Linked DNA regions of Homo sapiens: region 1 is linked to region 2. The links come from fine-mapping of genetic effects on gene expression. A gene starts in region 2. The other region holds a variant in brackets. All regions are shown on one strand. Distances are between the middles of the regions. Region 1 holds the start of GAPDH (glyceraldehyde-3-phosphate dehydrogenase). Region 2 holds the start of TAPBPL (TAP binding protein like).

Region 1 (11,185 bases), 83 kb before region 2:
GTATCCTCCCCGTTCTCTTCACTCAGGCAGTCACGAACGTCATCTCCAGGAAGTTTCATTTTGCTTCCCCTTGCGGCCCCTGCCCTTTGTACCCAAAACAAAGAGAGGCAGTCGACTGTCCCTGGCACTGAGTTTGTGCTGCCTGGGCCCTGCCTCTCCGCCTGCCTCAGAGTGTGGGCTGCAGAATGGGCCCGGGGAGGGAGACCGGATTTCTTTGATTCTGAGCCCCGTGTTTTCCACGTGTGACATTTCTGAAATCAGGACAGGTCTCAGAATCAATGGCACCTCCAATATGGGAGTCTTCCTTTTAGTGTCTGAAAATGGCTTTTAGGTGAGAAAATAAAGTGATAAGGAGAGAATGGTAAGAGGATTGGGCCCCTTTCAGCAGTTAGCCAGGCTTGTATGCCACGGGTCACAGAGAGAGTTAATTCCCTTCGAGGTCTGGGTCTGCCAGGATGAGGAAAACCTGTCGCTAACCCTTACGGGAGCTCACAGTGCAGTGAGGGGACAGCCCAGGACCAGCGCAGTACAGGGGATGAGGGGTGAGCCGGGCCCCATAGGAACCTGTGTGGCCCTGGGAGCCTGTGGATCTGCTCCATCCCGCCCACACTGACTTTCCTCACCACTCTTATCAGTCTTAAAAGAACACAGCCTGCAGCAGTACCTTTGCATTCCTCCATAGGCAAAGATTTCCAGGAAAAGCAGAGGAAACAATGGTGTATTCGCTGCCTTCTGCCTTGGTCTGGTTTATTTTAAAATCTGAGCCTTCAGTAATGGCTGCCTGGGCCCCCGGCCCAGCCACTGCTCTTGGCGTGTTGGCCTCCTGGCGGGGGCAACAGAGGCGCTGTGAACGCCACCTGTTAACCCCGATGGCCCTGCCTGCCCCACCACAGCTGGAGTTGGCCACGGCCAAGAACGACATGAACCGGCACCTGCACGAGTACATGGAGATGTGCAGCATGAAGCGCGGCCTGGACGTGCAGATGGAGACCTGCCGCCGGCTCATCACCCAGTCTGGAGACCGGTAGGCGCCTCCCCTGGGCATGGGGCCTTCCAGGGGGACACAGCGGGGAGAAAGGTTGGAACACAGCCCCAGAGACCCTCAGGCAATGACTGGGTCACATCTTGCTGTGGGGCTGCCCTTTGGGAGTTACCTGGTGGGGCTGGCCCAGACCCACAGCTCTCTCCCTTGGCAGTTGGATGAGCTATGTCCATTCATGACGGGAGGGCTGAAACCTCCCAAGGCCACCAGCTCTGGTGGTTCCCCTGGTTAGAGGCAGTTTAAAAACTGGCAAGGAACAGAAGGGTTGTGGGGGCAGATTTTTATCTAAAGTCAGGGCCATGATTTGTGCATTTGACCCTGTGTAAGTTACACCGCAACAAGAAAGTGAATTTTTAAAAATCACAAAAATACTGCAGATAGACATAAAGCCAAGGCCCTAGAGTCAGGGTGCTGGAGGCTCAGCAGCTTCTCTCCTACTGTGACTTCAGCTATTTCTTTTTTTTTTTTTTTTGGCTCACTACAACCTCCGCCTCCCAGGTTCAAGTGATTATCTTGCCTCAGCCTCCAAGGCGCCCGCCACCACACCTGGCTAATTTTTGCATTTTTAGTAGAGATGGGGTTTCACCATGTTGGCCAGGCTTGCCTTGAACTCCTGACGTCGTGATCCACCCGCCTCTGCCTCCCAAAGTGCTGGAATTACAGGCGTGAGCCATCATGCCTGACCTCAGCCTCTGAGTTCCCAAGACACAGGCGGGGCCCATTTCCCTGTCAGGGTGGGTTTGGAGAGAGTTCAGTCCCTGCCGCTCCCTCGCCATCCCGCGGCCCCGCCCTCGCTTCCGGTACTTCTCACGGGCTGCCAGAGGGTGAGGCAGCAGGAGGAGGAGTGCCGTCCGTCTTCAGGATTCCTGCCTGCCCCAAGGTTGACAACTGGTGTTTTTTTCTAGAAAGTCTCCTGCTTTCACTGCGGTCCCGCTTAGCGACCCGCCGCCGCCGCCAAGCGAGGCTGAGGACTCCGATCGCGATGTCTCATCTGACAGCTCCATGAGATAGAGACCTGCCTCCCCCTTGCACCCGAGGCCCTCGCAGCAGGGAGCTCAGCGAGGCAGAGGGTGGGGCTGCACAGAGGGGAACATCAGCTGCAGCTCTGCACCAGGCCGGTCCCTGGGGACTGGGGCGCTCCTCCCTCAGGCTTTCTCCCTCAGTCTTGGCTTCTCCAGGGCTCTGGGGTGTCTGGAGCTAGGCTTGGCCCTACCATTCTGGGGCCATTTCCACCACAGTTGGGGCTCTCCTGCCTTCACGCGTGGGTGTCTGCTACTTCCCCATCTTTAAAATGCTGCCAGAGCGATTGCGGCCCCTCACCTTGTCCACGTATCAGGAATGTGAATGTGGGACCTTTCCTCCATCCCTGTTGTCCGGAGCCAGCTCACTGTCTTCCACACTGGTGCTAACTGGCCCAGGCACTGGAGTGGAATAGAATGCAGCTGGAGGCTACGCATGGCCTCTGCAGCACACGCAGCTGGAGAGGGCTTCTGTCCCTGTCAGCGGCAGAGGGCGTTGGGGCTGGCCGGGGCACCTTGTCCCTGCTATGGTCCACGTGCTCACGCTGTCCACCTGCCAGGTGGAGTGTATGTGGCTGTGGCCCTCCCTCGTGGAGGTGCCGTGCTTTAAAGAGGCCTTAGTGCCCGGGATGGGCACAGTGTTTTGAAGGGAGGTGGGAGCTCTTGCTCTCCTGGTCACTGCAGAATGACAGAGAAGGTGAAGCTCCATGCATGTGTGCGCGGGTGTATGTGCGCTCAGGGTCTCTGTTTAAGTATCAGCTAAAGATGTGCTTCCTCCGTGTCTGTCATACACTGAGACCAACAGGCTACAGTGTCCCTGATTCTTGGAAAAGCCTGGAGAAGCTGGGGAGATGCGGTTCACAATGCCTCGGTATAGGAGGCTGTGTTGAGCTGACATTCAAATGGATTCTTTAATAATAATGAAACTGGCGAGTATTTATTGTGCACTTTGGTGTCACTGTCTCAAGCACTTCCTAATATTCACTAGTTTGAACTCTGAGGTAGGTACTTTTTTTTTTTTTGAGATGGAGTCTCATACTCTGTTGCCTAGGCTGGAGTGCAGTGGTGTGGTCTCAGCTCACTGCAGCCTCTGCCTCCGGGGTGCAAGCGATTCTCCTGCTTCAGCATGCCTGTAGCTGGGACTATAGGCATGTGCCATGAAGCCTGGCTGATTTTTGTAATTTTAGTAGAGACGGAGTTTCACCATGTTGGCCAGGCTGGTCTCAAACTCCTGACCTCAGGTGATACACCCACCTTGGCCTCCCAAAGTGCTGGGGTTACAGGCGTGCGCGCTCTACCGAGGTATGTACTTTTGTCTCCACTAGGTAAGCACACGTGCAAAGTGAGGCCCGGGAGTAACTGCCCAAAGCAACTGAGCCGTTCAGTGGCAGAGCCAGGGGTCTGGACCTAGGTCCCAGCTACACGCCTTGCCCCTACCCAAGTTCCCCTAAGGACGATGATGGAAATAAGTCACCCTGACACATCTCAGTTCATCTTCCTCAAAACTATGCGAGGTGGGCATTTTTACCGATTTTTAAACATTATATAGTCCTTACCGCCTTGGGCATGGTTTTAGGTACTTGGTTTACCTAGATGAATCCTGCTTGAAGACCTTAGGGGCTGGCCACGATGTCCTCAGATAAGACACGAGGGCACAGAAAGCAATAGAGCACGTGCTCAAGACCTCACAGCTGCGGAGGCCAAGCTGGAATTGCCCGCTGCAGCTCAGCTCCAGGCTGAGCTCCACTAACCAGTCAGCGTCAGAGCCCAGTGCGAGCCCTGACTTCCTCCACCTGTCAGCCTCCCTGGGGCTGCCCACAGAATAGCTTCTTCCATGTTTGGCCAACAGCAGATAGCCTAGGACTGGAGCGAGGAGAGGAAAAGGCCTTGTTCTCTGAAGTAGTGGTGCCAGCTTCCTGTAGCACTCAAGACGTCTGAGCGGGAAGCAAATGGTTCTCGAAGCAAGCAAGGCTGTTTGGAGGCCCTACCCTCAGTCTGAGGAGAACATACCAGGTCCCTCCCCAGCAAGAATGTCTCACCTTGACACAAGCCCAGCTTCCCTCCCCTCTGCCCCAGACCCTAGAATAAGACAGGACAAGTAACTGGTTGAGCACAGGGTACTTTATTGATGGTACATGACAAGGTGCGGCTCCCTAGGCCCCTCCCCTCTTCAAGGGGTCTACATGGCAACTGTGAGGAGGGGAGATTCAGTGTGGTGGGGGACTGAGTGTGGCAGGGACTCCCCAGCAGTGAGGGTCTCTCTCTTCCTCTTGTGCTCTTGCTGGGGCTGGTGGTCCAGGGGTCTTACTCCTTGGAGGCCATGTGGGCCATGAGGTCCACCACCCTGTTGCTGTAGCCAAATTCGTTGTCATACCTAGAAGATGAAAAGAGTTGTCAGGGCCCTTTTTCTGAGCCAGCCACCAGAGGGCGCCAGACCCTGCACTTTTTAAGAGCCAGTCTCTGGCCCCAGCCACATACCAGGAAATGAGCTTGACAAAGTGGTCGTTGAGGGCAATGCCAGCCCCAGCGTCAAAGGTGGAGGAGTGGGTGTCGCTGTTGAAGTCAGAGGAGACCACCTGGTGCTCAGTGTAGCCCAGGATGCCCTTGAGGGGGCCCTCCGACGCCTGCTTCACCACCTTCTTGATGTCATCATATTTGGCAGGTTTTTCTAGACGGCAGGTCAGGTCCACCACTGACACGTTGGCAGTGGGGACACGGAAGGCCATGCCAGTGAGCTTCCCGTTCAGCTCAGGGATGACCTTGCCCACAGCCTTGGCAGCGCCAGTAGAGGCAGGGATGATGTTCTGGAGAGCCCCGCGGCCATCACGCCACAGTTTCCCGGAGGGGCCATCCACAGTCTTCTGGGTGGCAGTGATGGCATGGACTGTGGTCTGCAAAAGGAGTGAGGCCCTGCAGCGTACTCCCCACATCACCCCTCTACCTCCCTCCCCACCTTGAAAGGAAATTATGGGAAAGCCAGTCCCCAGAACCCCCAACCCCAGGGTTGCACGCAGCCCCGGCAGGGAGGAGCCAGTCTTGGATGAGAAAGGTGGGAGCCTCAGTCCCATTCCCCAGCTCTCATACCATGAGTCCTTCCACGATACCAAAGTTGTCATGGATGACCTTGGCCAGGGGTGCTAAGCAGTTGGTGGTGCAGGAGGCATTGCTGCAAAGAAAGAGGGAGCGGGGCGCAAGTCAGGGGAGCGTGTCCATAGGGTGCCAGGCTGGCCGCTTCTCCACGGGCCCTGCCTTCCTCACCTGATGATCTTGAGGCTGTTGTCATACTTCTCATGGTTCACACCCATGACGAACATGGGGGCATCAGCAGAGGGGGCAGAGATGATGACCCTTTTGGCTCCCCCCTGCAAATGAGCCTACAGCAGAGAAGCAGACAGTTATGAACCCGGGTCCTGCCTTTGCAGGGCTGAGTCAGCTTCCCCTCCCGCGGGCCCTCCTGCACTCACCCCAGCCTTCTCCATGGTGGTGAAGACGCCAGTGGACTCCACGACGTACTCAGCGCCAGCATCGCCCCACTTGATTTTGGAGGGATCTCGCCTATGGGGGTGGGGGGGAGATGGGGACAGGACCATATTGAGGGACACAAGGTTACCATATACCCAAGGGAGCCACACCATCCTAGTTGCCTCCCCAAAGCACATTTCTTCCATTCTGTCTTCCACTCACTCCTGGAAGATGGTGATGGGATTTCCATTGATGACAAGCTTCCCGTTCTCAGCCTTGACGGTGCCATGGAATTTGCCATGGGTGGAATCATATTGGAACATGTAAACCTGGGGGAATACGTGAGGGTATGAAGGGGCTGCCCATCAGCCAGGTGGCTCCTCCCACACCAGCTTTGGGGCTCACCATGTAGCACTCACCATGTAGTTGAGGTCAATGAAGGGGTCATTGATGGCAACAATATCCACTTTACCAGAGTTAAAAGCAGCCCTGGTGACCAGGCGCCCAATACGACCAAATCTAAGAGACAAGAGGCAAGAAGGCATGAGGAGGGGAGGCTCCTCCAGAATATGTGAGCAGCCCTAGGCCACCTCCCCATTAAGAGGGCGAATGC[A/G]GCATCTCCTTACCCCCAGGAGGGCCCAAGAGGTTGAATTTTATCTCCCTTGAGCTTCCCTGCCAGGCTGGCCTGGCTTAAGGCATGGCTGCAACTGAAGGCTCCAGGGCTGCCCAACACCCCCAGTCATACGAAGCCCTTCCAGGAGAAGCGGCCATGTGGGGCACTGCCACCCACAGTCTGGGCACAAGCTTTGTACATGGTATTCACCACCCCACTATGCCACCCCAGGAATGCTTGCTGCTGCCTAGCTCAGCTGCACCCTTTAGGGAGAAAACGCTTGTACACTCAGCATCATCAAACTCAAAGGGCAGGAGTAAAGGTCAGAAATTAACTGGACAGGGCAAGCCCACCCCTTCTCTAAGTCCCTCCTACAAAAGGGACAGAGACTGGGGCGGGTGGGAAGAGGGGAAGCTGTATTTTAACCCCCTAGTCCCAGGGCTTTGATTTGCCAAGTTGCCTGTCCTTCCTAGCTCTTTTCCAGAAATCAGGAGTGGGAGCACAGGTAAGTGCATGTGTGTGGGGAGAAGGGATGGGAGAGAGCCCCAGCCCAGGCCCCCAGCTACAGAAAGGTCAGCAGCTATATTTAACCTCAGACCAGGGTGCGGTGGGAGATCTGGTTTCCGGAAGACGGAATGGGGAGAAGGGCAGGTTCCCCGAGGCGCCCAGACACCCAATCCTCCCGGTGACATTTACAGCCTGGCCTTTGGGGTCGGGTCAACGCTAGGCTGGCAGGGGAAGGGCGGGGCCGTGAGGTGAGCCGGCGCTGCAGGAAGGGGCCACCACCAGAGGGGCCATTTTGCGGTGGAAATGTCCTTTTCCAACTACCCATGACTCAGCTTCTCCCGGCTTGGCACCATGCCACAGCCACCACACCTCTGCGGGGAGGGGACACAAGAGGACCTCCATAAACCCACTTCTTTGATTTACCAGAGAATAATCTAGGAAAAGCATCACCCGGAGGAGAAATCGGGCCAGCTAGCCTCGCTCCACCTGACTTCCCCGCCACACGCGACTCCACCCATCGAGGCAGGAGCGCAGGGTTAGTCACCGGCAGGCTTTCCTAACGGCTGCCCATTCATTTCCTTCCCGGTTGCAACATGGCGGCCGCTCTACCGCAGGCGCAGCATCCGGACAGGGATGCACCCGCTGCGCACTAGCATCCCGGGGCCTGCGGTGCCGGAGGCCGTGGGGGAGGGGCTCCTCTGCGACACGTGACCCCGCAGAGCGCGAAAGGAAAGAAAGCGTCCCCCACCTAGGGGTCCGGGTCGGGATCTCGGGCGGGAGTAGGGACCTCCTGTTTCTGGGGACTAGGGGAAGGAGGCTCCGGGCAGATGGCGCCGCAAGGGCGGAGCTGCACAGGGCGCCACAGCCTGGGTGCGGGGCTCCGCCAGGTCCGAGCGCTGACCTTGAGCTCTCCTTGCGGGGAACAGCTACCCTGCCCCCATACGACTGCAAAGACCCGGAGCCCGCAAGGCTCGTAGACGCGGTTCGGGGGCGGTCGCAGCCCAGGGCCCCCCAGCCACCCGCGAACTCACCCGTTGACTCCGACCTTCACCTTCCCCATGGTGTCTGAGCGATGTGGCTCGGCTGCGCGGAGGGAGAGAACAGTGAGCGCCTAGTGGCCCCGGCCGACACACACGCCTCCCCTCCCCTCCCCCACCAGGCCTCCATGCCCAGCCCGCGCCGCATCACGTCCTCCGCCCGCCCCTGCAATGCGGAGGCCGCCCGGGCCCACCCCGCAGCGGCGCGAACACATCCGGCCTGCGCCCGCCCCTGCCGCCTTCAGGCCGTCCCTAGCCTCCCGGGTTTCTCTCCGCCCGTCTTCACCTGGCGACGCAAAAGAAGATGCGGCTGACTGTCGAACAGGAGGAGCAGAGAGCGAAGCGGGAGGCTGCGGGCTCAATTTATAGAAACCGGGGGCGCGGCGGCAGGCGGTGACTCGGACCCCGCCTCCCGCCAGGCTCAGCCAGTCCCAGCCCAAGGTCTTGAGGCCTGAGCTACGTGCGCCCGTAAAACCGCTAGTAGCCGGGCCCTACTTTCTCCCCGCTTTTTTTTTTCCGCAGCCGCCTGGTTCAACTGGGCACGCACCGAGCGTGTGGGCCCCGACGTAGGGGGGAAGGGACTGAGATTGGCCCGATGGGAGGTGATCGGTGCTGGTTCCCAGGACTGGACTGTGGGCAGCAGGACACTAGGGAGTCAAGGACGGGGACCCTTACACGCTTGGATGAAACAGGAGGACTTTGGGAACGACTGAGATGGGGAATTGGAGCCGGAGCCCAGCACCGCTCGCGGCTGCACGCGGCCTGCCCCCTCCCCTTTCTTTCTTTCAAAGGCTGAGAGGCGGGAAAGTTGGGGAACTTCTCCTCGAGGCTCTGCGGTAGTGACACCGGACTGCTCAGGCAAAGGCCTAGGAGGGGCCCATGGGCCTCGGGCGGGGGCCCGTGGTTCCTTCCCAGCCCCCACTTCCCCCTCCCCATCTCCTGGCTCCTGGCATCTCTGGGACCGAGGCCTGGGCTGGGCACTGGGCACTGGGCACTGGGGGCCTGGAGAGGAAGGAGGCTCGGGAGGCGGCTTGAGGGGGAGGGGGAGGTTTCTGCACGGAAGGTCACGATGTCCTGCAGCCCTGTAGCCTGGACCTGATAATTAGGGCAGACAATCCCGGCCCTGTGTGCACCAGCGGCTCTCTCCGGGCTGGGGCCCCAGGCGGAGGACAGGATGGCTGGTGGGGGCCCAGAGGCCTCCCACAAAGGCACTCCTGGAAACCTGTGGGCTGTGCTGCCTAGGGAGAGAGACAGTGTGCCTTTCATTCCATCCAGCCTGGGGCGAAGAGCGGGACGTGAGGGCGGAAGTCCCTCCCCGCCCTGGGACGTGCAGGCGAGCCAGGAGCCAGGGACTCCCTTTCACTGGCTGCGCCGGGGGATATTGAGGGCAGGGTGAGTCAAGAAGAGGGAAAAAGTGGGAAAAGAGGTCTTGGGCACACGGTGGGAACAGGTCCCCTGCCCCCTCCCACAGGGGATCCATTCTTCTGGTAGGAGGGCAGAGGGCCAGGTTTGTGAGTGTGGGATGGGAGGGTGCTGAACACTTGTAAGGAAGGGGGTGGGGTGGGGTGGCCTTGGCCCATCAGCAGGTGCATGGGAGGGGGATCCCGGGCCTCTTTGCTGGCCCAGCATAACCTGACACCAGCCCCCTGCCCTTCTAGCTAAAAGCCGGTTGCTAAGTTTAGCCTGCCTGGTGATAATCTTTGCTTAAAAAGCACCCACAGGACTCCAGTCCCTGACCCTGCCTTTCTGGGATTGCCTTTCCTGCTGGGACCCAGAGCCAGGCTGTGTCCTCGTCTGGCTGCCACTGGCATGGTTGGTGCGGGCTTTTCACAATGACCACCCAGAGCAGAGTAGCAAGAGCAAGGCAAGAAGGTCCCTAATGGTGAAAGGGGTGGGGTGGGGGAGTGGAGGAAGCCCCACCTCTGACTCAGCTATTCCTGCAACCAGGACCGTTAACCCTTTCTCATTGAGAGCATTAAGAGCACCTCCATGCTCCTGCACCACCCAAGCGTGATCTTCCCCTCTGCCTCATGCTTGTCATTTTTCATTACTGTCTTCTCCCCGCAAAGAGGGAGCTCAGTGCCCAGGGAGCACTACTGACGTAGTGTGCTGTTGTCATGACAGCAGAGGCACCAGTGTGGTCACGACAGCCAGCTCACAGCCTCCGGTTCGAAGGTGACTCAGCAGAGAAGACTTGAGGAGCTGGAGAGGGGTGCGCAGGCTTCAGGGGGCAGCCCGCCTGCAGCATAGCTCACGCCCTCTGCAGACCCGGGAACAATGAGGAATGCTGGGAGACAGGTCTTGTCTCCTGCAGAGCTGGAGGGGATCATGATCTGAACTTCCACGAGCCTGGGCCGGTCTGCTGCCAACCTTTGGAGATGGGATTAGGGAACACGAGTGGGGGTGGGGTGAGGCACACGGCAGAAAGCAACCCTTGGTCTAGAGCAGGTTTTCTCAACTGTGACGCTATTGACATTGTGGGCCGTGTGATTCTTTGTTGAGGGGCCATCCTGTGCACTGCAGGATGTTGAGCCACATCCCTGGCCTCTTCCCACAAATGCTGGTAGCATTCTTCCCCTATAGGCTATGACAACAAAACAGGCCCCAGGTGTTGTCAGATGTCCTCTGGCAGACAAAATTGCCCCCGGTTCAGAAGCACTGATCTGGAGCCTAGGCACTGCATAATTCTCCCCAGAGAGGCTGTCTGGTCACTGTGCAGGGTCCAGAGGTTGAGAGGGGAAAGGTGGCAGTGACGGGGCAGGAAGCTCATCTGCCATCCCGGGACAGGCCCTAGGACTCTGGGCTCACTCATCTCTCTCTGCACTGATAACCCTCTCTCTGCTGCATGAAACTGGGCTAATGTGAAAGATGAAACAAAGACAAGCTTAGGAAAAAATGTCTAAAAGTATATAAAAACATTTATTCATTAGAAAACAAGGAGATTGGCAAACATATATTCCAAAGTTGAAGCAGCTCAACGCAGTTCAGTTAGGCTAATTTAAGAGAAAGCCTTGCATTTTAAAGAGCGTGTAGGCATTTTTTTTTTAATTTGAGATGGAGGTTCGCTATTGTTGCCCAAGCTGGAGTGCAATGGTGTGATTTCGGCTCACTACAACCTCCGCCTCTGGGTTCAGGCGATTCTCCTGCCTCAGCCTCTTGAGTAGCTGGGATTACAGGCGCACGCCAATACGCCCGGCTAATTTTTTATTTTTAGTAGAGATGGGGTTTCTCCATGTTGGTCAGGCTGGTCTCGAACTCCCTACCTCAGGTTATCCACCCGCCTTGGTATCGCAAAGTGCTGGGATTACAGGCGTGAGCCACAGTGCCCGGCCTTTTTTTTTTTTAAAAAAAAGAGACAGACAAATATTTTACAAGGGAAACAGAATTCGAATTCCAGGTCACCCTACAGGATACCCTGCACAGGGAGGACAGGAACAGACTTCCTAGGATCTGTGCCTGCGAGCCGATGCTCTGAGAATGGGAGTTGTTTTCTTGGGTGTCTCGT
Region 2 (10,111 bases):
AGCTCCTCTCGGGTCCACGTCACCACCACATCCAGAGGGTAATAGCCAGCAATGTCGCAGATGAGGGTGGGCAGCAGAGCTTCGTTTGCCAAGCTCAGTCGTACTTTAGGGGAAGCTGGAGAAAGAATGAGGAATAAGATTACACATGGATCTAACTGGGGACAGCGGAGGAGCCTGAAGCCTTTTCTTCCTGCCAAGATGAGAGTAGATTGTGGAGGCTACAGTGTCCCTTGGTGGTGTACCAAGGCGGGGGTGTGTGAGGGGCCCACCTGGATGCAGGCCGTAAGGGGGCAGGGTTACATTTTCCAGAAAACAGATAGTAAAGCCAACTAAAGATTGGCTGGCTTCTTACTGTCATTCTAAGCCAGTTTTTTTTTTTTTTTTAAGATGGTGTCTTGCTCTGTCGCCCAAGCTGGAGTGCAGTGGCATGATCTTGGCTCACCGCAACCTCCACCTCCGGGGTTCAAGCGATTCTTCTGCCTCAGCCTCCTGAGTAGCTGGGACTACAGGCGCGCACCACCATGCCTAGCTATTTTTTGTATTTTTAGTAGAGACGGAGTTTCACCGTATTGGCCAGGCTGGTCTTGAACTCCTGACCTCGTGATCCGCCTCCCAAAGTGCTGGGATTATAGGTGTGAGCCACCGCGCCCGGCCTCTAAGCCAGAGATTTTAAAGGATAGCAGTGATAATGGTCAGAACCGCTTCCACTGCTCTGCCTTGGTTTGCTGCTGCTGCTCCTCAGGATGTGGTCCAAAAGGACTGGGGTGATGGAGACAGCCAGCCACAGCAGGGCAGCAGGATCCTGGGCTGGAAATCTCTTGGTGGAATTATCCTGGAGTCCAACGGGACTCCTTATCTGATGCCATCTGTGCTTCCATGGTGAAGATGGCATTTAAGTTGTGGGATTGAAGCCTGCTTCTCAGGAAATCATTCTTGCATTTGGGTCCCAATCTGGAAACGCTCCCAGTAGACATGTTATATCCCCTTCCCTGGGATAACCATGTCCTGGCCTCACCTTGGATGTTGAGCTGGATGATCTGCTGAGCTCGGTACAGAGAGGTGGTGATCTGGCAAATGTAGGTCCCCTCGTCCTGTATAGTGAGGCCGGGCAGGGTGAGGGAGGCATCCCTGGCCATGCCCAGTTGTGCAGGCTCCAGGGTAGCGCCCTTCCGCACAGCCTGCCCCTGCCCTGCGGTCCAGCTGTACACCAACTGACCCCTGCCCTTGTGCTGCAGTCGCCACTCCACACTGATGAGGTCCAAGCCCGGTGCCATGGAGAAGCCACAGTCCAAGGAGGCTGAGGACCCCAGCAGGAAGCTCAGGGATTGGGTCTGTGTCATCACCTGGAACTCCACTGTGAAGAGGAAAAGAGGGGTGATTTGTGGGCTACTTCCTCCTTGAGGTCACCTGATCTCCAAGCTGTGGGCATGTTGTGGGCATACACCTGCCTCTTCCTCGCCTGACAGGCCGGTTGAGCTTATTTTCCATCACATGGAACCACAAAGAAATGGGGCTCTGGAAAGGTAGCATGGTACACATGATGGCCATCACCATTTTGGGATCACTTACTCTAGGATAATTTAGTGAAAGCTATGGATCTCCCACCAGGAAAAATACACATGCAAAATTAAGAGTTACCATCAATCTTCAGGTAAGAACTACTAGAGTAGCAGAAAAAGCTCTGAAACCCTGGTTGTTCCACTTACTGGCTCCGTGACCTTTGACAAGTCACTTGGTGTTACCAAGCTCACCTGCTTAAGCAAGGATGCTGTGAAGACTAGAAACAATAGTTTAAAAAGTACGTGGTGGCTGGGTGCGGTGGCTCATGCCGGTAATCCCAGCACTTTGGGGGGCCGAGGTGGGTGGATCACCTGAGGTCAGGAGTTTGAGACCAGCCTGGCCAACATGGTAAAACCCTGTCTCTACTAAAAACACAAAAATTAGCCGGGCATGGTGGCAGGTGCCTGTAATTCCAGCTACTTGGGAGGCTGAGACAGGAGAATTGCTTGAATCCGGGAGGTGGAGGTTGCAGTGAGCCAAGATCGCGCCATTGCACTCCAGTCTGGGCGACGAGTGAAACTCCGTCTCAAAAAAAATGTAAAAAACAAAACAAAACAAAAAAACACACGTGGTATTGGGAAGCCCAGGCGGGTGGATCACCTGAGGTTGGGAGTTTGAGACCAGCCTGACCAACATGGAGAAACCCCGTCTCTACTAAAAATACAAAAATTAGCTGGGTGTCGTGGCGCATGCCTGTAATCCCAGCTACTTGGGAGGCTCAGGTGGAGAATCACTTGAACCCAGGAGGCGGAGGTTGTGGTGAGCCAAGATCGAGCCATTGCACTCCAGCCTGGGCAATAAGAGTAAAACTCCATATCGAAAAAAAAAAAAAAAAGCATGTGATAGTAGTATCTGTGCCAAACATGCTTAACCTAAATCCAGTCATGAGGAAATGAGGAAAACAATCAGACAAATCTAAATGTTGGGATACTCTACAAGACCACTAGCCTGGACCCTTCAAAAATGTCAATTCTATGAAACATGTTCTAGATTAAAACAAGGAACAGCACAACTAAATGCACTGCATGATTCTTGTTTGAATTGTGTACTTAGAAAAAGCAGTAAAAAAAAAAATATTGGGACAAGTGGAGAAATTTGAATTTGGAGACATTTAATTATTTTTTAAAGAGAAGGGTCTTAGGTTGGGCACAGTGGCTCACGCCTGTAATCCCAACACTTTGGGAGGCCGAGATGGGTGGATCACCTGAGGTCAGGAGTTCAAGACCAGCCTGGCCAATATGGTGAAACCCCATCTCTACTAAAAATACAAAAATTAGCTGGTGTGGTGGCGGGCGTCTATAATCCCAGCTACTTGGGAGACTGAGGCACAAGAATCACTTGAACCTGGGAGGCAGAGGTTGCAGTGAGCCAAGATCATGCCACTGCACTCCAGCCTGGGAGACAGAATGAGACTGTTAAAAAAAAAAAAAAAAAAAGAGGGTCTCGCTCTCTATGTTGCCCAGACAGGACTCAAACTCCTGGGCTCAAGCAATCCTCCTGCCTCAGTCTCCTGAGTAGCTGGACTACAGGTGTGCACCACCATGCCCTGGACTTTATAGTTGAGACTATTATCATATCAATTAAAAAATATCTAAAAGTATGAAGATCTGTGGCATACTAGGCAGTCGTGTGGGGAGATAGGGACAGTCTGCCCTAGCAGAGAGGAGTATTTTATCACTGATAATATTCAGAATTGCCAGTGTCGGGAGATGGTGAGACTATAAAGCCATCTGACTTTTAGCTGATTTTATTTTTGTTCTGAAATATTTTACAGTCTGCACTCCCTTATTGCCTGCGCTACGGGTAGACTACTTCCCCACTTTGGTTTGTTTCTGACATGATGGCTTTGTAACTATGAAGGATTACATCCTTGTCCTTCATTGTAAACTAATACATGCTATGGATGTATTTGGGGTTTAAACATGCGTTTCGGGGTTCAAACATGCGTTTGGGGTTCAAGTGTTATCTTCTGCAACTTACTCTCAGTTCAGAGGAAAATACACACGTACACATATACACACATGAGGAGTCGGGGGAGAGAGAATGTGGCAAATTGTTAACAACTGGTGGATCTAGGTGTAGGGTATATAGGTGTTCATTATATTATTATTTCACCTTTTTTTGTAGGTTTGGAATAAAAAGAGAGAAATACCTACGCATGCCAGGAGTATGGTAGACACTGGACAGACATGAAGACCTTTTTCTAATGGGTCAGGATAGATTTAGGTTGGACCACAGAGAGGTTAGAGTGTTCTGGGGTTTTCCAAGGATAGGACGGTTGCCCCTAATTTTCTCTGGACTTGGCTGTTTCTTCTTGGAGACTCAAAGAAGCAGGGCACAGAGTATTGGATTAATGGGCTCTGGGGAACCCTGTCATCATGTTCTCAATTTCTTGTGCCCTCGAGGATGTGCTGAGCTGGAGAGGGCAAGTACTGGGTTTACTAATAAGATCATGAACAAATGATGCATCCCTGAGCTTTACCCCTGAAGCACCAGAGCAGCCTAGCATTTCACTGGGAGAAAACCGGGTTTTGGCTCGATAAGACTACAGTGGACAGCACCCATGTACAGAATAGCATCATGTGTCTTATTTCCTCATGGCAGCCCAGTGAGATGAGAACGATCTCCATTTTGGAAATAACACAGGTTGTCTGTGTGCCTGGGGACGTTCAGGTAGGGGCTGCGAAGCATTCTCTTGTGGACTCAGGGTTTTTGTTGTTGTTGTTGTTTTTGAGACGGTGTCTCACTCAGCTGCCCAGGCTGGAGTGCAGTGGCGCAATCTCGGCTCACTGCAACCACCGTCTCTCAGGTTCAAGTGATTCTCCCGTCTCAGTCTCCTGAGTAGCTGGGATTACAGGCACCTGCCATCATGCCCGGCTAATTTCTGTATTTTAGTAGAGAGGGGGTTTCACCATGTTGGCCAGGCTGGTCTTGAACTCCTGACCTCAGGTGATCCACCTGCCTTGGCCTCCCAAAGTGCTGGGATTACAGGCATGGGCCTTCGCACCTGGCCTGACTCAGGGGTTTTTAGGAAGAAAGGACCAAGGCCTAGGGGTGCCCTGAGGTGACCAGTGTGGATGGAGGTGGATTTGTTCCCTTTCTTCTTCTGTGCCCCATATCTTACCACTTTAGAAAAGCAAAACTTTCTGTGACTTGCTTTTCTTTTCTTTTCTTTTTTTTTTTTGAGATGGAGTTTCGCTCTTGTTGCCCAGGCTGAAGTGCCATGGTGTGATCTCGGCTCACCGCAACCTCTGCCTTCCGGGTTCAAGCGATTCTCCTGCCTCAGCCTCCCTCGTAGCTGGGATTACAGGCACCCGCCACCATGCCCGGCTAATTTTGGTATTAGTAGAGACGGGGTTTCACCGTGTTGACCAGGCTGATCTCAAACTCCTGACCTCAGGTGATCCACCGACCTCGGTATCCCAAAATTCTGGAATTACAGGCGTGAGCCACCACACCTGGCCTTGCTTTTCATTTTCTTACCTGCAGTTCGCACAGTCCCCTGGGGGCTCAGTGGCAAGTTCAGCGTCGGGTGCCAGAGCGCCTCATTCTTGGTGACCCTGGGAGTCTTCATCACCAAGGAGATGCTAGGTCCCCCTCCAGAGACCTGCATGTTGGCCATGAACCAAGCTGCTGTCTTAACAGTGGTCTCTGTCATCTGGAGAAAGTAGCGGGAGATCTCACAGGTCACCTCCTTCCCACTGCAGTCAGCATGGAGCAAGGCCTCGGCCTGGGGAATCTGGACCAGGTCCACTGGGGAGAAGCAGGGCACACACAGAGGGCAAATTAGCGTGAGAACACCAGGGCCAACGGGAGGCAGTATGTGTGGCTGTAATCGGGACCTGGGCTGTCCTGGTGGAGGGAGCCCGGGAGGACCAAGGACACAGGTGGAAGGCTTTTACCTGAGGCCTCAAAGATAATAGGTGGGTCATCTTGGGCCAGTGTGCCCCCTTGGAAATCGGTGAAGTCCTCCAGGGAGCCATCGTCCAGCACTGGCACCTGCTTCAGCACAAGGGAGGCCCTTGCCCTGTCCTCACTGCTGGCGAGAGCTCCACGGTGCGCACCGTCCTTCGCCAGGAAGCAGTCTAGGACCACGTCCACTGCCCGCCACTGCCCCTCTGCTGGGTGGGGCTCTGCAGACAAAGGCTGGGGTGAGCACCGCCTTCCCCAGAAAGCTACTCCACACTTGCTTCCTGCCCCCGCCCTCAAGCTGTGGAGTCATCAAAGGGTAAAAGTTGCCATCCAAGATCCTAGCTGTTTCTGTGTCCCTCTATTCTCCCGTCATCCCCAAACCAGCTTTCTGGAGAGCACCTGCTAGTCCAGGCAAATACTTCTTGGTGAGAGTTAAAGTCCTGGATTTGCCTTGCTCAGAGGAGTTTATGCTTGCATTTCCAACTGTTGAATAAAAGACTATCTTTTCAGTCAAAGGAATTCTCAGAAAACAAGCAAGTGCCACCGCAGAGAGAGGAGACTGGACAGTTACTGTTGCTGGGGCACTGACAGCCTGCACTGCTTTCTCCCATTTCGGGTAGCCTTCCCCTCCCCCGCCTTCAAGGTCACCTTCCAAGTGATTTCCTCACCTGGGGAGTCCTTTCCTCTTCTGAAGTGTCAGCTCCCAGGCCAGTGCCCTCTCTGTAGGACAGTGGCTCCTGACCACAGCCACAGAGGCAGCCCCTCTTTAGCATTTTCCCTGTGGAGTCCCCACCCTCCCTCCACACACACTATTGGTTCCTTCCTTTGCCAGCCGCTGAGCCTTTCCCCTGTTGGGCTTAGAAGGCGATGGGGTCATCCCCGGCCCCTTTGCTCTTCTGGAATCTCGGGGAGGGTGGCACCCTGGGGCTTCAGTAGCTCTTCTCCCAGCCAGCTCTCCCCGACTCCCAGACTCACTGGTTTCTGCTGCTCCAGATAGAGCCAGGCAGAGCAGCAGGCACCAGCCCTCCTGTGTGCCCATGGAGGCTGCTCTCGAGTTCCCTCCTTGCCCACCGCCCTTCTCCACAGTCCTACGCTGCTTGCGAGGCCCGGCGGAAGAAGGGGGCTCTCCAAGCACACCTGGCAGCCTGCAGCCTTTAGGTTTCTTCCCTGTTCCCTCTGCTGCCGACTTTTCTTTCACTTTCACTTAGAGCAAGATGGCAGCCCGCGTCCCTGTGTGAAGCCGTCTGCAGCAGCTGCCAGAGCCCTGCTTGCTGTTTCCTTTCTCACCACCCACCTCACCCGGAAATCCCCTGGTGATTTCAAGACCTGACCTCTGCACCCTTTTGCTCCCCACCTGTCCCAAAAAAGTGGAGCTATAACTGTGGGAAAAGGGGATCTGAAGTCAGACACAGGATCCACAGTAGCCTGGGGACCTTTCTCACCCCCGCCCTTAAGCAGGCCCCAACATAACCGGCTGAGAAACCTCCTCTGCCAGATCCTGACCTGAGCCAGGAGGCGGCCAGGAAACTGGATTTTGGGACTGGGATTTCAGAGAGGAAGCTGGAGAGCTGCAGGGTGGTCATCTGTCACTTTATTTTGCCCGTCTTGTAGCATGTGGGTCTTTCGCAGCAGGAAGTGTGTTTTACAACCAGAGCCCCCGCCCTCCTGCAGCGCAGGCGCAGCTGGCTGGGCTCCTGCTTCCCACTCTCCACCTCATCCATATTTGTCCTCGTCCCTGCCAGTCTCGAAAAGGCACTCTGTCACGTGTACACAGGAAAGGGCCCTGACAAGAGGATGGGACTGCAGTTGTGGCTGCCAGGTCTCACTCTCCCTTGGATGGTCGGCGGGGTGGGGGTGGAGGCCAGGGCTGTAGTGCAGCTCCCGCAGGTGCTGGCTCAGGGGGAGCAGGCAGGCTCCGGTTTTCGGTAATCCTCCTGGATGGGGATGGTGCTGCCCTCCTCCTCCCTGGGGCAGCTGTAATGACAAGGCTCTGCAGGCTCCACAGGACTTTCTCCTTTGTCTGCAGAAGGAGATCCGATGAGTCTTGGCCAGCAGTGGGGGCAGGGGGAGACGGGAGAAGGAGATGGGTAGAGGCGGGTGCGCTTGGGGGAGGGGTGTCAGGAGCACGCCAGCTAAGGGGAGAGAAGGGGTAGGACCAAGGCTGGTGAAGTGGAGCTGGTGGGTTTCAGTGAGATTCCAGGCGTGGGCAGTGGGGTTGAGCCAGTGGGGTGTGGTGCAGGGGCAGGACCGGAGGCCTGTGTTCTGTCTCTTACTTGATCTATATTTCCTTCGTTGATGGAGGAACAGGGCCCCGGCCAGGGTGAAAACAAGGAACATTCCAGAGAAGATCACAAGGATGCGAATAAAATCGGAGCTGCACAGGGATCTTTGGGCTGTAATAGGAGGGGACACACAGGGGTTAGGGGAGGGTCTAGCCCTTGGCTCCCTCAGCCCAGCCCTCCTGTCACCTTGCCTCTCCCCTTTCCCCCACCTTATTCTATCCCACCCGCCACCGTTGGCCAACTCCTCTCCTAAACAGTGGACTCTGCTTTTTCCCCTCCTCTTATCCCTAATCCTAGGAGCTTTCTGTCTGGCTTCCCTCCTGGCCCCTCGTGTATGCATTCTCTCTAGCGGTGGGGATTAAGGAGAAAACTCACGTGGCCAGTGGGTAGAGAGAGTCCGGGCAGGCAGCTGCCTGAAGTCAGCCAGAGTCTGCATGTGCCCAGCTGTCCTGGCCTCCAGCATCTCTGGAAAAACAGAGACAGAATGAGTAGCAGCAGGGGACCCCATAGGGCACATCTGAAGGCCTGAGAGGTGCTGGATGGGATGGGAAGGCAGAAACAGGCTGACCTTATCTAGGGGTAGGAGTGGGGAGTACTGGTTGGGGTATCACCGCTACCCCACGTGATGGCACAGAGAGTTGCCTGGAACTTACCACTGACATAAGGTAAGTGGGTGGGCTGAGGGTGTGGGCTCAGGGCCTGAGACGACCGAGCGGTCAGCGAAGGGTTTGGAAGAGGATCACACTCGGTGCACTCCTTGTCCCTGCACTGCCAGCCATTGCGACAGGCACACTCAGCATTGGCAGTGATGGTGCAGTTGCGAACGAGAAGACCTGGGGGAAGAGAGGCCCAGGGAGCATAGGACACTCAGACCTGTGGAGACCTTCAAGGTCCACTTGCTTCATCCCCCAACCCCCATCCCAGGCCCACCTCTAGGGACGTGCTTCCCTTTCCATTCCCACCCCTGCAAAGGCCTGCCCTTTGCTCACGGTCCCCCAATGCCTTTGCCATTATTATTGTTATTAAAGAAGAAAGTTGGACCTTTCAGAAGGAAGATTCATGGGTTCAGACATAGAAACCATGAAAAGTAGAAAGAGCTTATATGACTTTCTCTTGTACTCCCTGATACATTTTTTATTTTTTATTTATTTTTTTGAGATGGAGTCTCGCTCTTGTTGCCGAGGCTGGAGTGCAATGGCGTGACCTTGGCTCGTTGCAACCTCTGCCTCCCGGGTTCAAGCAATTCTCCTGCCTCAGCCTCCCAAGTAGCTGGGATTACAGGTGTGTGCCACCACACCCGGCTAATTTTTTGTATTTTTAGTAGAGACGGGGTTTTACTGTATTGGCCAGGCTGGTATTAAACTCCTGACCTCAGGTGATGCACCAGCCTCAGCCTCCCAAAGTGTTGGGATTACAGGCGTGAGCCACTGTGCTCGGCCCCAATACTTTAATAACTTTTAATTAAAGTATAATATACGTACAGAGAGGCACGCATGATTGTAAAGCTTAAGAATTTGTACAAATTTGGCTCACAGGCATAACCAGCAGCAGATCAACAAATATAAAATAGCCGGGTGAGGCAGGGAATTGCTTGAACCCGGGAGGTGGAAGTTGCAGTGAGCCGAGATCACGCCACTGCACTCCAGCCTGGGCAACAGAGTGAAACTCCGTCTCAAAAAAAAAAAAAAAAGAAAAGAAAGAAAGAAAATAGCCAGGTGCAGTGGCTTACGCCTGTAATCCCAGCACTTTGGGAGGTTGAGGTGGGTGGATTGCTTGAGCTCAGGAGTTTGAGACCAGCCTGGCCAACATGGTGAAACCCCGTCTCTACAAAAAATACAAAAATTAGCTGGGTGTGGTGGTGCACACCTGTAGGCCCAAGCTACTGGGGAGGCTGAGGTGGGAGGATCGCTTGAGCCCGGGAGGTGGAGGTTACAGTGAGCTGAGATCATGATACTGCGCTCCAGCCTGGGTGACAGAGTGAGATCCTGTCTCAAACACCACCAACAAAAAACAAAACAAAGTATATTAGGGATTCCCAGGGGCTGGGGCTGGGGCTGGGGTTGGTTGGGGGGAAGAAATGGGGAGTCATTGCTAAGGGGTACAAGTTTCTCTGGGGTAACGAAAATGTTATAGAATTAGATAGTGTTGATGGCTGCACAACCTGTGGATACACTAAAATAAATAAATAATAAATAGTTACTTGATTACAGTTACTTAGCCTTTATTTTGTTTGTTTGTTTTTTGACAGAGTCTTGCTTTGTCGCCCAGGTTGGAGTGCAGTGGCACGATCTCGGCTCAGTGCAACCTCCGCCTCCTGAGTTCAAGTGATTCTCCTGCCTCAGCCTCCCTAGTAGCTG

Evidence for each region. PIP is the estimated chance that this variant, and not a neighbour inherited with it, causes the effect.
Region 1: its variant is fine-mapped to the expression of TAPBPL in blood mononuclear cells (TOPMed, PIP above 0.99).

Annotation. Positions count from the first base shown.
Region 1 is chr12:6,531,351-6,542,535 of GRCh38, reverse strand. GAPDH (glyceraldehyde-3-phosphate dehydrogenase) reads right to left here and starts at 8,019. Exons shown (of 9, transcript NM_002046.7): 1 at 7,967-8,019; 2 at 7,675-7,726; 3 at 5,943-6,042; 4 at 5,746-5,852; 5 at 5,526-5,616; 6 at 5,320-5,435; 7 at 5,146-5,227; 8 at 4,540-4,952; 9 at 4,165-4,435. The coding sequence starts at 7,703. The coding sequence ends at 4,366. It overlaps IFFO1 (intermediate filament family orphan 1), which reads left to right. Exons shown (of 10, transcript NM_001193457.2): 9 at 894-1,024; 10 at 1,948-2,997. The coding sequence ends at 2,053. It overlaps GAPDH-DT (GAPDH divergent transcript), which reads left to right and starts at 8,129. Exons shown (of 2, transcript XR_002957397.2): 1 at 8,129-9,072; 2 at 9,393-10,620. It overlaps NCAPD2 (non-SMC condensin I complex subunit D2), which reads right to left. Exons shown (of 32, transcript NM_014865.4): 32 at 10,581-11,185. The coding sequence ends at 11,124. RefSeq lists enhancers at 1,657-1,796, 1,827-1,976, 2,757-2,966, 5,144-5,917, 7,466-8,239 and 3 more and silencers at 7,728-7,867, 8,588-8,837. The variant A/G (reference allele first, on the strand shown) is at 6,137.
Region 2 is chr12:6,448,649-6,458,759 of GRCh38, reverse strand. TAPBPL (TAP binding protein like) reads right to left here and starts at 6,718. Exons shown (of 7, transcript NM_018009.5): 1 at 6,448-6,718; 2 at 5,463-5,693; 3 at 5,044-5,313; 4 at 1,016-1,354; 5 at 1-115. The coding sequence starts at 6,511. CD27 (CD27 molecule) reads right to left here. Exons shown (of 6, transcript NM_001242.5): 3 at 8,408-8,587; 4 at 8,130-8,219; 5 at 7,746-7,865; 6 at 7,047-7,492. The coding sequence ends at 7,368. It overlaps CD27-AS1 (CD27 antisense RNA 1), which reads left to right and starts at 7,243. Exons shown (of 6, transcript NR_015382.2): 1 at 7,243-8,419; 2 at 10,023-10,111. RefSeq lists enhancers at 6,419-7,018, 7,449-7,608, 7,699-7,908.